Homo sapiens: one gene and its partner. The protein of the gene in region 2 purifies or fractionates together with the protein of the main gene of each other region. This does not show direct contact. Each region holds a gene or a part of one and is shown on either strand. Other genes may lie near its edges.

Region 1 (7,028 bases), 6.7 Mb from region 2:
TAATCGGCTGTTATTTGCTGTCTGTGTCTCGCTAGTGACACATGTCGCCCTGTGCTTGCATGCCCTGAAGTTTACACCTGTCATTTTTTTCTGGTCTTGATGATTTTCATTCTTTGGGTTATTTAATTCAGCATCTCTCAATTGAGGGAAGTGAACATTCTCCAAGTTGAAAAATAATAATAATTTTATATAATTTAGAGCTTATTTAAAATTTACCTATGAAAGAAGGTAAAAAGGAACAAGTAGGGAGAGAGAGATGTGAAGAAAGTTATGAATATAAAAATGTACTTTTGGCCGGGCCCAGTGGCTCATGTCTGTAACACCAGCACGTTGGGAGGCCAAGGCAGGTGGATTGCTTCAGGGCAGGAGTTCAAGACCAGCCTGGGCAACATGGCAAAGCTCCATTTCTACAAAAAATACAAAAATTAGCCTGGTGTGGTGGTACATGTCTATAATCCCAGCTACTTGGGAGGCTGAGGTGGGAGGATCACTTGAGCCTGGGCTGTCAAGGCTGCAATGAGCCGTGAATTTGCCACTGCACTCTAGCCTGGGCAAGAGAGCGAGGCCCTATCTCAAAAAAAAAAAAAATACATATTTTTGGTAAGAAAGGTTATACAGAAGGGAATACTTTTGTATGAAAAAGTATCTTGTATGGTAAATTTTTGTCCTAAAGTAAAATGACTGATTATTTAGGAAAGAGAGAAGTTTAGAACAAGTCAGAAAGTCCAAGCATGTCATAGACGGTTTGTGTAAGTCATGATAAGATTTGTGAAGGGGAATTCATGAAAGGAATTTTGTATGTGATTAAATTGGTTACAGTGAAAAGAAAATCATTTATAAATAAGTCTTTCTAAATTTTGGTCCCCGATGTTAAAACAAGATTTTTTTATGGTATTAATCTGCTCTTAATAAAATTACAAGAAATTTTACTTTTACTTTTATAAACTGTTTCTTTTAAAAAGTCTCAGAATCATATCCCAGAAGTTCAGCTTTTACTGTGTCTCACTGCTTTTTGCTTTTTTGAGGTCTGAGATAATTCTTTCCTTCAGCTTTCTCATCAACTTTTTTTTTCTCCAGTTCTAATTTTACTGTTGTTATGAGCTAATGCTAAAATATTTTATCTTGAAGGTCTAGAAAAGCAATGTTTACCTCTAGTATAACTTGATTCTGTACTTTTGGCTTTTAAAATACATCTAAATTGTCAATGTAATCAAAAAACTAATGCTGTTCCTAAGAGTGAGGTAATCCTATGCTATAATCATAACCTTGAATATACTCTTCCTAGGTCCAGTTAAATCCAAGCACTTTTTTCATCAGGTTTGATGTCCAGGTTATCTAAATGGGCTTCCCATAAGCAGAAGTAGTCACACTGCAGAATTTTTCTTTGCCTTTTTGGTAACTGTCTTAAGAAACAAGATTGTATAATTCCTATGCTGTCTTTATTAGGTTTTTTTGGTTGCCAAAACTAAGATTTAAAAGGCTTAAGGTTTTTACATCATGTAACCTTCTGTATTGCTTCTAAAGCATTTTCATTATCACTTTGGCTAAATGAGTAACTATTATTTTACAATGACCTCTGCTTCTGTTTTGATCAAATGTTTTCAGCCTTTTAACATGTTTAATAAACAGCCTCAAAATCAAAATCCTAAATTAAGTCTCTGACTTAGTCTTATTGCTGGGATTTATTAAAGTTATAAAAATTAATCACTACAAGACTGTAGAATCTTTTTACAGCTTTTAGTCACACCATGAACTCCATTATCACCATAATATAGTTTGGATGTCCCCTCCAAATCTCATGTTGAAATGTAACGCCCAGTGTTGGAGGTGGGGCCTGGTGGGAGGTGGCTGGATCATGGGAGCAGAGCCCTCAAGAATGGCTTGGGCTGTCCCCTTGGTGACAAGTGAGCCCTCACTCTGATTCACACCAGATCTGGTTGTTTAAAAGTGTGTGGCACCTCTTCCTCACTGTCACTCTCTCTTTCTTGCTCTTGTTGTCACCATGTGAAGTGCCTGCTCCTGCTTCACCTTCTGCCATGATTGTAAGGTTCCTGAGGACTTTCCAGAAGCCGATACCAGCACTATGCTTCCTGTATAGCCTGCAGAACTGTGAGCCAATTAAACTTCTTTTTTGAAAATAAATTACCCAGCCTCAGGTATTTCTTTATATCAATGCAAAAATGGCCTAACACATACCACCTCCACCCTGATAATTATATATACTAGAAAAGAATCAGTTAAAGGGCCAGGCGTAGTGGCTCACACCTGTAATCCCAGCATGTTGGGAACTGGAGGCAGGCGGATCACTTGAGGTCAGGAGTTTGAGACTAGCCTGGCCAACTTGACAAAACCCCATCTCTACTAAAACTACAAAAAGTTAGCTGGGCATGGTGGTGCATGACTGTAATCCCAGCTACTCAGGATGCTAAGTTGGGAGAATTGCTTAAACCCAGGGAGCAGAGGTTGCAGTGAGCTGAGATTGCACCAATGCACTCCAGCCTGGGCAACGGAACGAGACCATGTTTCAAAAAAAAAAGAAAAATAAAAGAAAAAAAATCCGTTAAAGGACTCCCTCTAGTTCCTTAAAAGGGTCCTTATCAAGTGCTATTAACTAATCCTTGTGCCTTACAGTTACAGGGCTTTGACTCCTGAGTACATATAGCTCATCTAAAGAAGGCACTGACTCCTGCCAGTATCTGATAGCAAGCTGAAGCTAATCAAAGCCTTGTCTTTAGACCTGGACAATCAAAGTAAACTATTTTCATGAGACCTACAGACAGAGACATAGGGACAGGCCTGTATTCAAAACATTAAGATTCATTTAATAATTTTGCCTATATCTGAATATAATTTTCTATGCCTTGATATTAAATAATTTAAGTATTTGGCTACGTATGGGCTTCTTTTCATGTCATTCTCATAACTAGGTAGGGCTTATGACATTTTTGTTTAAAACATTAATTCCTTATGTTTTGTTTTCCTCTATAATTTGAAACTATTTAGTCCTTCCAGGCCCAGAGACTACCACATGAGATTGTAAGGGCTTGTTGTGGGGAATAAAATCAATTCAGACCCTCCAAATCAAGGTCAGGCAAACTGCCTCTATAGCTGAACAAAATGTTGTATTTTATATGGCTAATTGCTACAAGTCAAGATTAAAATAGCTTAATGTATAGAATTTATAAATAAGCAAATTTTATAACCGTCCCATTTGGCTTTTGGCTCTTATGTTGCTTAAAAGGGGTTTTAAGGTTAAGGAGTGCCTGCCCACCTCCATTCCCATCTGGCCTAGAAAGTTTAATTGGCCATAAGTCTTTTGTTTAAGTCCCTTGGCCATAGTGGTCCCACCAAGGGACATGATGGATCCAGGGCAGGTAGCACACCACCCTGACATCAATACTGGACAAAATAAGAGCTTGGCCATTGATGGCATACCTTAACAAAAAAAAGGGGAACTATAAACTAAAATAAATAAGTTTTTAAAAGTTCTAAGCCCTTTCCCAACAAAATGGACCCTCTTCTTGGCCAAAGGGCATCCAAAACACCTGAAAACTAATTCAGGCCATGAGGGGAAGCAGGGAGATTGGACATGACTTGCCATATCTTTCCTCTTCTTGGAATTCAGTCACAACTGACTAGCTTAGCATTAAAATAGAAATCATAAGATTGACAAAACAGACTCTTTATGGCAATAAAATACCAAATTATAAATAGAATCTAAGATCACGTAAGGCAAGGGTTAAGTCTCTATTGCAGGGTAAACAGTCATATGTTACATGCACGTTTGTTCAATATTCATGTGTCAGAACCACCTCCATAAATATTCATAACTCTGCTGTTCAACCAGGTGACTTAGTCATATTAAAGACTTGGAAAGAAGGACCTCCTATAGACAACTTTCTCCAAAGTGGAGAGGACCCTATCAAGTGCTTCTAAGTACCTCTAGTGGAGTAAGGGAATACACACTTGGGTACATTCATCCAAAATTAAACCTGCCTCTCATAAAGTCCCACAGGCATTCAACGTGGTGACCACTGTTCCAGCACACTCTTGTGAGCCAATAAAGAATCCTGTGGCTTCTCTTCAAAAAAAGAATCCATCCAGTGGATAAGTACTACTCTCAAAATGAAATTACTAGTTTTAATATTAAACTTGATCTATTATAATATTAGAGCTAATTTGTTTACAGAATGGGCACAAACTACGGCCTCCCTTCTAAACCAGAAAAACTGTTGGGTACGCAGTGAATTACCTCTTTCATCAACCTCAGGCTTACCTTGGCATATCAAATAGGCTAATTTAAGCCATTCCAATTCCAATGAATGGTTTATAAGAGATAAATGCTTTCCTTTCCTTTTCTTTTTTTTTTTTTTTTTTTTTTTTGAGATGGAGTCTCGCTCTGTTGTCCAGGCTGGAATGCAATGGCACAATCGTGGCTCACTGCAAGCTCTGCCTCCCGGGTTCACGCCATTCTCCTGTCTCAGGCTCCTGAGTAGCTGGGACTACAAGGGCCCGCCACCACGCCTGGCTAATTTTTTTGCATTTTTAGTAGAGACGGGGTTTCACCGTGTTAGCCAGGATGGTCTCGATCTCCTGATCCCGTGATCAACCTGCCTCAGTCTCCCAAAGTGCTGGGATTACAGGTGTGAGCTACCACACCTAGCCAATATTTCCTTTTCTAATATATCAAAAAGACACCAGCCACTATCCTTCCCTTCCTCTACTGAAACAAACAAAAAAAACACCTTTTTCAATTATTCTGTAGATAACTAAATAACATCACCACTTTAGGCTATACCATTTTTGATGGGCTTAGTTGATTAATGGCTACCCAAATTCAGGTGACAGGTAAAGTACTCTTATGCCTTGAGAGACATGACACCAGCCACTTCCAGGCTGAAACCTACAACATGGGGTGGTTGCCACCCAACAATGCAATCAGACCCTGGTCTTAACTAATCAAAGTGGACAGAATGGCAAAATAAATCTCTAAGATTGCATGCTCATCCTTCTCCTTGGGGATGGTTATGGGCACATGGGTCTCACAATTGGCTATACCTACCTTACAACTGGACTGGACAATGTACTAGGGGTCAACATTACCTTCTACGACATATTGTTATACATCTAAATTCCTTCCTCACCAACTGAAAAATAGTCAAGGCCCACCATAGTTGATGACAAAACAGGCTTCTTGGTGGTTTTATCCTATGGCCATATTCTCTCTTCAAGCAGCAGCTATAGACATTGAATTACAAATAAAAGCTCTAGCAAAACATACTGGTGCGGCTTTCAATGACACTCATCAGGCTATCACACTTCTGACAGGAGAAACTTCCCAAATAAGACCAGTGGGCTTGCAAAACCATATGGCTTTATACATTCTTTAACTGCAGCCAAGGGAGGAACTTGTGTCTTGAACAAAACTGAATATTATGTTCCTGATTACTGCCATAATATATCCCAGGACATGAGTTCTCTAGAAACTTGTATTTTGGCTATGGATTCCCGGTCTTATGACCCCATAACAGCATAGTTTCATGAGCTTTCCAGCACTTGGAAAGCATTTCTTTTCAGTATGCTTGGTATTATAATATTCATTGTTATTAGTTATTGTGCTTTTATTTCTGTTGTGTTTATTGTATAGGGTTGCAAGATAAAATAGTTTAGCAGCTGTTTCACCTTTCTATTTACTAACCTAGTATATTAACTTTCTAGAAACAATTGGGATATCATGCAAGCAAGGAGCTCCCTTACTCCCTGAAGAGGCTCACTGCACACTATTATGAGAAGACCCTGTCCCAACCATCAACATCTACTGCCTCCAGGAAGGAGTTACAAAAGAACAACCTTCACCCTTTATCTCCCCTTAAGGTTAAGGGTTCTCTCATAAGTAGAGGGGGAAATGTTGGGGAAGCAGGAGCTCAGGAGAGCCAGAGTAACACCATTTTAAATTCAGCTCCATCTTGAGACTAGCAAGGCACGTTCCTTGCCAGTCATGACCCAGTCATAAGATATTTACAGTTGAGGAAACAACCTAAAGATACTTACAATGACACACTCCTACAACAGTAGAAAGTCCAGATGTCTCAATACCCATAACAATATATGTTTTTGAGATGATTAACATAATTCTTTGATGTATTCATGCACTAAAATGTCAAGGATTGTTTTCTTTAAATCAACAGAATAATAAATTTTGTCATGCTGTCTGCTCACCCTCACATAGGCACAGCTTAGTCTTTACATCGATAAGACCCCTATGTAAGAAAAACTTAAAGACAGTCTGCTTGCTTTCTGAGGATGTCCTACTCTATAATGGAGAAGCTTTCAATAAACTGTCTCTTCTCACTGCACTCTGCAACTCACCTTGAATTCCTTCCTGCAAGAGATCCAAGAACTCTAACTCTCTCTTAGAGTCTGGATCGAGACCCCTTCTCCAGCAACAGTATCACAGTTTTCTAAGTTACTAATAATATTAATATATACTAAAAGATTATTAACATACCTGATTCAAGGTATTTTTTTAATGATTCTTCAAGTGAAGGAACAGGCAGTGATGGAAGAGAATCCTGGTACTGAAATGTTCGTTCTTCAGTTGATTTAGCCAATTGATTTTCCATGATAAAATCACAATAGGAAACCTAAAGAAAAGAGAGAGAGCCCTCACAACTTCAATCTCATAGATAGTGTTACGTATCCTAGGTACAATTCACAATTCACTAAACCAGTATTTAGGGACCACAGCATATCTAGGACTTGGTACCAGCTTTTATGAAATTTATAAATCTGTCAGATAGAGAAAACCAACTTAAAAAGAATGTGTAGACACAAAGTGCTAGAAGTAAAGAGTGATCAGTGGGACTGGTATAATTAGTTACCATTTATTGAACACCTAGCATTTGCCAGGTACTCCAGTTTGCATTACAGAAAACATGTGTTAGCTCTCTAACTTTTATGTTATCTCTGAAAGGTGGCATTCTTTGCAATTTTACATATGAATATATCAAAACTCAGAAATTTAGTAA
Region 2 (7,028 bases):
AATGTGCAGGATTGTTACATAGGTATACATGTGCCATGGTGCTTTGCTGCACCTATCAAACCATCATCTAGGTTTTAAGCCCCGTATGCCTTAATGCATTAGATATTTGAGAAGACCACTTTAAGTGTATCGTTAAATAAATAGAGCTTAACTTGGAATGTCGTCTTCTTGTGGCTGGCACTGAGGCAAAGAAATGTAATCATCTAGGAATTAGACGAATTGCATTTTGAGTTTTGGCAGGATCTGGCAGTAATTTTAAAGATAAGCTTTAAAAAGTTTTGTATTAAGCTCAATATTAGCATTTAATCCATTTATTTGTTAAAATCTAATATTGTATTCTTGTCTTAAACAGTGACTTTGTTTTTGTAGGCTGCATCCCATATCTATCAAAATCAATTTGTTCAAATGATCCTCAATTCACTTATTAACAAGTCAAAATCTTCTATGTTCCAAGTCAGAACTTTGAGAGAACTGTTATGGGGCTATAGGGATCCATTTTTGAGTTTGGTTCCGTACCCTGTTACTACCACAGTTGGTCTGTTTTATCCTGTAAGTACCAAATATGAATGGCAATATTATTACATTTTAATTTAATTAATTCAATGGCATTGGCAAGGCATAATTTTATAATTTAGCTCATTAGTCTTATTGCTGATCTGGAGACATATATCCTAACTTTTTAAAAAGTCCACTTCTCATTATAGCTTCAGCTTTCCTAGTTGGGAAATTCATCTGAATTTAACAATTAAATTTAAACCTGAAGAATAGATTTAATAAGGTTTCTACTCATTTATAAATACACAATTTTTTTTAAATTAGCCGGTAAGCTAGTCTGTAAATCTTTGAGCACTGTTTTTGGCTTTTATTTCCCTATTCACATAATCAAGTTTAATACCATATTTTTATTTGTTTTAAATATACTCCTCATTCCTCCTTTTCTAGACCTCTTACAATTTTAATTTATATTTAAAAGTTAGCCTAATGTTCACATCTCAATACTGATAAGGTAATAGACTTCATTTTAATGGGATTTGTAAATAAGAATTTTTAGTAGTCCATAATGTCATGAAATGGCAGCTTGAAGATTAAGGAAAATGTGAACTTGATGGTGTACTTGATTACCGCTTAATGTTTTGAATTACAAATAGGATAAGCTAACTACTGAATTGGAAGTTGGACTATGACTTCATTTGGCACTATATGTGAATATTATGTTCTCTAGTTCATTGTTTTACTTTTAGATACTGTTAGGATTACAAGGTTATATATCAATTATAAATGAATGTAGAAAGCCATAATGAATCAAATTCATTCTGATTTTAACTCAATACTCATAGCTCTTTCTTTGGCTAATGCTTTAACTTTTGGATGTCTAATTTTTATCATTTTAGTAACCACTTATTATCATTTTAGTAACCACTTATTAATGACTGTAACATTTAGAATACCCCTAGAAATCATTGTTCTTATAGGTTTGTTCAATGTCCCTCACCTCAACATAGTAAGAATAGTGATCAAAATGCCCTCATTGGCTTAATTATGACAGAGTGCTAGAGTTCACATCATGTCAGCTTCTGATATGTATCTTCTTTGTCACAGCATCTAGCACTTATTTCTAGGCACCTTTCACAATTTTTAAGGCCAATAATTTAAAAAAATGTATTGCAGATGTATTTCAAGTCATTTGAGTAACCAGTGATTGAGAAATGTGAAAGTGAGTTATGTATTGTACAACTTTGAAAAAATGACTTGTAGAAGTAACATTTTCCCATACATATATTTCAGTACAACAATACTGCAGATGGAGTTTATAAAGTTTTCAATGGAAAAGATAACATAAGTAAAGTTGCCATAATCGACACATATAAAGGTAAAAGGTAAGTATTCTGGTAAAATGTGCATGTATGTTACTAGGGTACTCTTAAGCAGGAATAGTATTCATTTAACATCTCATAAGACATAGGCATCAACCTATAGAACAGACCTGGTTATAATTCAGCTCTGGAAACTCCTGTTCTGCTAGGTATTAACTCTTTAGTTGTGGTAACTGGTGAGTTCACACCAGTGCATAGCTGCTGACTATCAGCTCCACTTTAAGGTTTGGTTCACCTTTCTGCACAGGTTATGGTTGTGTTACATAAATCCCCAAAGGGACTATTTTTTCATCTCTGCTACTTATCCAGCATTACAGTATAATTATTCTTACAATTAGATAACCATAAATGAAAAGGTAAAAAAAAAAAAAACAACACATCAACTGATTGTGTAGTAGATGGAAACTTTTTTTTTACTTTTTAAATCGAGCATATCGAATTCCATATTCCAGTGGCATGACCTAAATGTGTCTATAAAGATGGAAGCTTAATGAATCCAGGCAACTGCTTTCATGACCTTCCCCCTGCAAATAGTCTTTAATAATTTTCCATATTGATAACTCAGCTTTTTTAACTTTATCAATGCAAAAATAGAATGAATATTTCAAGTGCAGTTCTACAATGTAAATACAAAATGTGAAAATGAAGACTTTGCCAACTTTAAAGTGGTAAAATAACAAATCAGCTTCCTAAGCCATTATTTCCTTTTTTTTTTTCTAGCTCCAGCCTATTCACCTAAAGAATTTATAATTTATCATATATGTAAACTAGGAAGAACCCTAATAAATATCAGAGGAACAAGCTTTCTTCTCCATAAAATTAACAATTGTGTGTTTGACTAGTTTTTTTCTGAAAAAGAATAAAGTGATCAAAACCAAAAGAGATGAAATGTTTTTATTAATATAAAGTAACCCCTACCTCAAACTGAGTCTATCTAATGATTGCTTTTAACAGCTAAATATTACTAGTGGAGTACTTTTTCTTCTAAAGAGTCCACAGTTACATATTTTTATAGAAAAAGTCAGTAGAGGGAAAAAAACACTTCTAAGTATTCACTTAAAAGGAAATCACAGCAATTTTTTATATTGAGAAATAACGAGCATTTCACTCTAATATTACAGAGAGATGTGGAGGGGAGTTGCAAAGCACTCCTAGTTAGAGTAAGAATTTCACATCATTTTAAGATTGTAAGGTTGATTTAACTCATGGCAAGACTGAACATGATTAACCACTTATTTTGTTTAAGCAATGGCTTGTCTTGACATGTCACTGTCAGGAGTGGAAAAAAAGTTTTTCCATCACCAAAAAGTGAGGATGCAGGGAAACTATTACTATTGTTTTTATCACTTCCAGATATATATAGCTTATTTAGACAGCAAAGTATAAGTTAGTAAACTCTTTCCTACTTTAACGCCAGTCCATGGGAGAATTAAAGGGAGGAAGGGGCAAGAATATAAATTAATCATCTACATGTTTTGAATGTTTGCTGATCCAAACATCTGCTTCTTTCCTCTTCCCTGCTTCTCTCTTCTGCCTGCCTTGTACTTAGCTTATATCAGTTACCCACTTAACACTTTCCTTCTATTCATTCTGAACACTTATACTACTGAGTAATTCATGTATCCCATTGGAAAAAAAAAAATTTCCCCTAAGTAGAGATCTAAGTTTCTGATAAATGTTTTTAATTTTTTTCTTATTCCAAGATGTTTCTAATTAACACCTGGCAGTTTTTATTTTATGATCTGGCTACCTAATGGCATCAGGTACATTGCAATAAGATAAAAGGTTCAAACAAAACATAAACAGAATTGAACATTTCTTAAACTTAGTACTTGTCACATTTAAATGCATCATATTAACAGAAGTATTGAATTATAATAGAAAAAGTAATGTAAGAAAGGTATTCTTTAAATAAGAATGTTTATTCATTGTCTTTTTCTATTCCTAGGAATCTGTCCTATTGGGAAAGTCACTGCGACATGATTAATGGTACAGGTAAGAATATTTGTTTTGTGGTCATCACAGTTAATCCACCTCCCTTTCCCACAAATCCACCGTTGTACTGACAGTGTTCTGAAAGTTGAGGGTGTGTGTTTACTTGCCTTTATATCCCCACAACAAAATTCAGAGTCACTATTTGTATATAGGCTAAAGGTCTGTTCAATGTGATGGGATTTGTAAAGATTAATCATAAAAAATTAGCCCTTACTGCATGATTCAGAGAAATGTTTGCTTTGTAAAAACTTTACTGCCATCCTGGCAACAGAAGTAAATGGTAAAAAACAAACAACAACACAAAACACTTTAGTTACATTTCAAATATTTTATAAATAGTATACAGATAAGTTAGAATTGAAAGAATTAAAAAAAGCTAATTACAAAATAGAAAACATATCTAAGCAAGGCTTATAGCTGAGATAGAATAAAGTTGCAAGACAGAACCATCCATTTTTGGATAAGGTGGTCAGAATGAGAGAGAAAACAATAACAAAGTCAGATGTCTTCTTAACTGTGAAAAATATATGTAAAAAATGAGCATTCATAAACTTAGATTTAAGGTATGGTTAGATCAGGCTTATTCTCCTTCAGGAAAAGCAAAGTACAGATATGCCTATTAGTTTAAGAATTAAGATTTTTAAAAAGCAATGGGAGGCTGGTCACAGTGGCTCATGTCTATAATCCCAGCACTTTGGGAGACCAAGGCAGGTAGACTACTTGTGCCCCGGAGGTTGAGACCAGCCTGGGCAACATAGCAAAATCCCATCTCTACAAAAAAAATACAAATATTAGCTGGGTGTGCTGGCACACGCTTTTAGTTCCGGCTACTTGGGAGGCTGAGGCAGGAGGATCACTTGATTCCAGGAGGTGGAGGCTGCAGTGAGCTATAATTGTGCCTCTGCACTCTAGCCTGGGCAATAGTGTGAGACCCTGTCTCAAAAAAAAAAAAAAAAAAAAAAGTGGTGGGAATCGAATACCATGAAGTAATTAATATCCAGAGGCAAGCTTTCAACTACTAGGAAACAAAAGCATGAAGTTTAGAAAATTAGGGAATATCCCATAGGAAAATGATATAACAAAGATAAAGACACTTAAGTAAAAATGAAGTACAGAGAATGTTTACTTTGCCAAAGGTATGATTATTGACTTCGTATGCGTACTTGATTCTATCATTGCCTTGTAGGAAATGATAAACAAAAAAAGCAAACAAAAAAAACAGCAAAAACACTGTTGGATTTGCAGGGGTTTTCTTTTGTTTTTTTTTTTTTTTTTTTTTGAGACATAGTCTGGCTCTGTTGCCAGGCTGGAGTGCAGTGGTGCGATCTCGGCTCACTGCAACCTCTGCCTCCTGGGGTTCAAGTGATTCTCCTACCTCAATCTCATGAGTAGTTGGGACTACAGGCATGTGCCACCACACCCAGCTAATTTTTGTATTTTTAGTAGAGACGGTTTCACCATGTTGGCCAGGATGGTCTTGATCTCTTGACCTTGTGATCCGCCCCCCTCGGCCTCCCAAAGTGCTGGGATTACAGGCTTGAGCCACCACACCTGGCCAAGGCTTTGCAGGGTTTTGAGCCATAGGAGTGGGCAAATAAGCTATTTTCTAAGTAAAGCATTTCTGGAAATAAATTTTCAAGTCCTCAATACTACCAATGCTAGTAGTTGTATAAGCGGAATACTTAGTCCTTAGATGCAGAGATAAATATACTGTGTTAATCCTAGTAAAGGATTCTTTAAGGAGAAAAATCTTTAAAAAGAAGATTCATTGACAATAATAGAAATGCATGAGCATCAGGCATGATGTTAAAAATATCTATGGGGAAAATAGGGCTGATACAAACTAGGAAAAGAGGGAATTTGGACAGAGCAGGGGATGATCCCTGTGAGAGAGATTCTTGCTTATGGCACTAGCGAAAAGAAAGTAATAAAACAGTAAGGTTCTAATGTGTTTTCATCGTAATTTAGAAGTGCATCCTCTTTACCTTCTTCAGTAAGTTTGAAAAGACTTAAAATGAAAGTATTGGTATACATTTAGAATGTTTCTTTTGGGAGGACAGAAAAAAAGCTCTGCAAATATCAACTATGTTGCAGTCATTGTCCATGGTAGTTGCTGGGTATAATTAGGACATAATCTTCAATGATATTTTAGATAATGATCTTAAAAGCTTTTCAATGCATTTTTCTTTAATTATTAAGGAAATGGAAAAGCAGTTGTTGTCAATGTCCATATGGGGGCTTATATTTTACTTGTCACAAGAGTGTAAACTAATGAAAACAAGGTCACAAGGTTGACACACTTGCCAGAGAAAGAACCTACAATGCATAATCAAAGATGAGACTTACCATTTAAAACTCATTCAATGACGGCTCGTATTAGTGATATTCATGTGAGAAGTACATGGAGGAGTTAACTATTTCTTCATATATCCAATGTTTGCCATGGATCATAGCTGTAGCAAAAAGTAAATTCAATAAATGACTTTTTTATACACTTTCAAAGCATTTGAAGTTCTGTTTAGTGAGAGAACTTTAGTAAATATTTTTAGAAGTAGTAATCAGCCATTAGGACAAATGAGAAAAAAAATCACTACAAATAAATGTGGACATGGCAGGAGATCCAAATGAACTTCACTGGAAGAAAAGTGCCACTCTACTGGTGGGGTAGGGCATTTCAAAAAACAAACACAATGTTAGCCTTAACATTTCATGTTTAAGTTTCTTTTATTTTGTACCATTAAATATGTATAGTATGTAGATTTGTTGTTGACAATAGCAGCCGCCAGCCATATGTAACTGTTAAGGACTCAAAATCTGGCTAGTATGATTTGAAATGTGCTGTAAATATAAAATGCACAGTAGATTTTGAGACTTTAAGAATTTAAAATATTTTATAATGGTTACATGTTAAAATATTTTGGATATTAATAAGTTAAATATAGTTTTGTTTTGTTTGAGACAAAGTTTTCCACTTGTCGCCCAGGCTGGAGTGCAATGGCATGATCTTGGCTCACTGCAGTATCCGCCTCCTGGGTGCAAGCAATTATCCTGCCTCAGGATAGCTGGGATTACGAGCGCCTATCTCAGGATAGCTGAGGCAGGCCTATCCTGCCTCAGGATAGCTGCCTCCCAAGTAGCTGGGATTACAAGCGCCTACCA

What was found.
Region 1: the proteins of CD36 (region 2) and CROT purify together in Homo sapiens (affinity purification with mass spectrometry; 2 studies listed by BioGRID and IntAct, with this or other methods). This does not show direct contact.

Annotation. Positions count from the first base shown.
Region 1 is NC_000007.14:87,348,664-87,355,691, reverse strand, and holds part of CROT (peroxisomal carnitine O-octanoyltransferase), read right to left. Parts: intron 6,645-7,028; 5' UTR 6,624-6,644; coding exon 6,509-6,623; intron 1-6,508. UniProt on the Homo sapiens protein: Beta-oxidation of fatty acids. The highest activity concerns the C6 to C10 chain length substrate. Converts the end product of pristanic acid beta oxidation, 4,8-dimethylnonanoyl-CoA, to its corresponding carnitine ester.
Region 2 is NC_000007.14:80,662,621-80,669,648, forward strand, and holds part of CD36 (platelet glycoprotein 4), read left to right. Parts: intron 1-352; exon of another isoform or gene 353-369; coding exon 370-549; intron 550-1,785; coding exon 1,786-1,877; intron 1,878-3,822; coding exon 3,823-3,869; intron 3,870-7,028.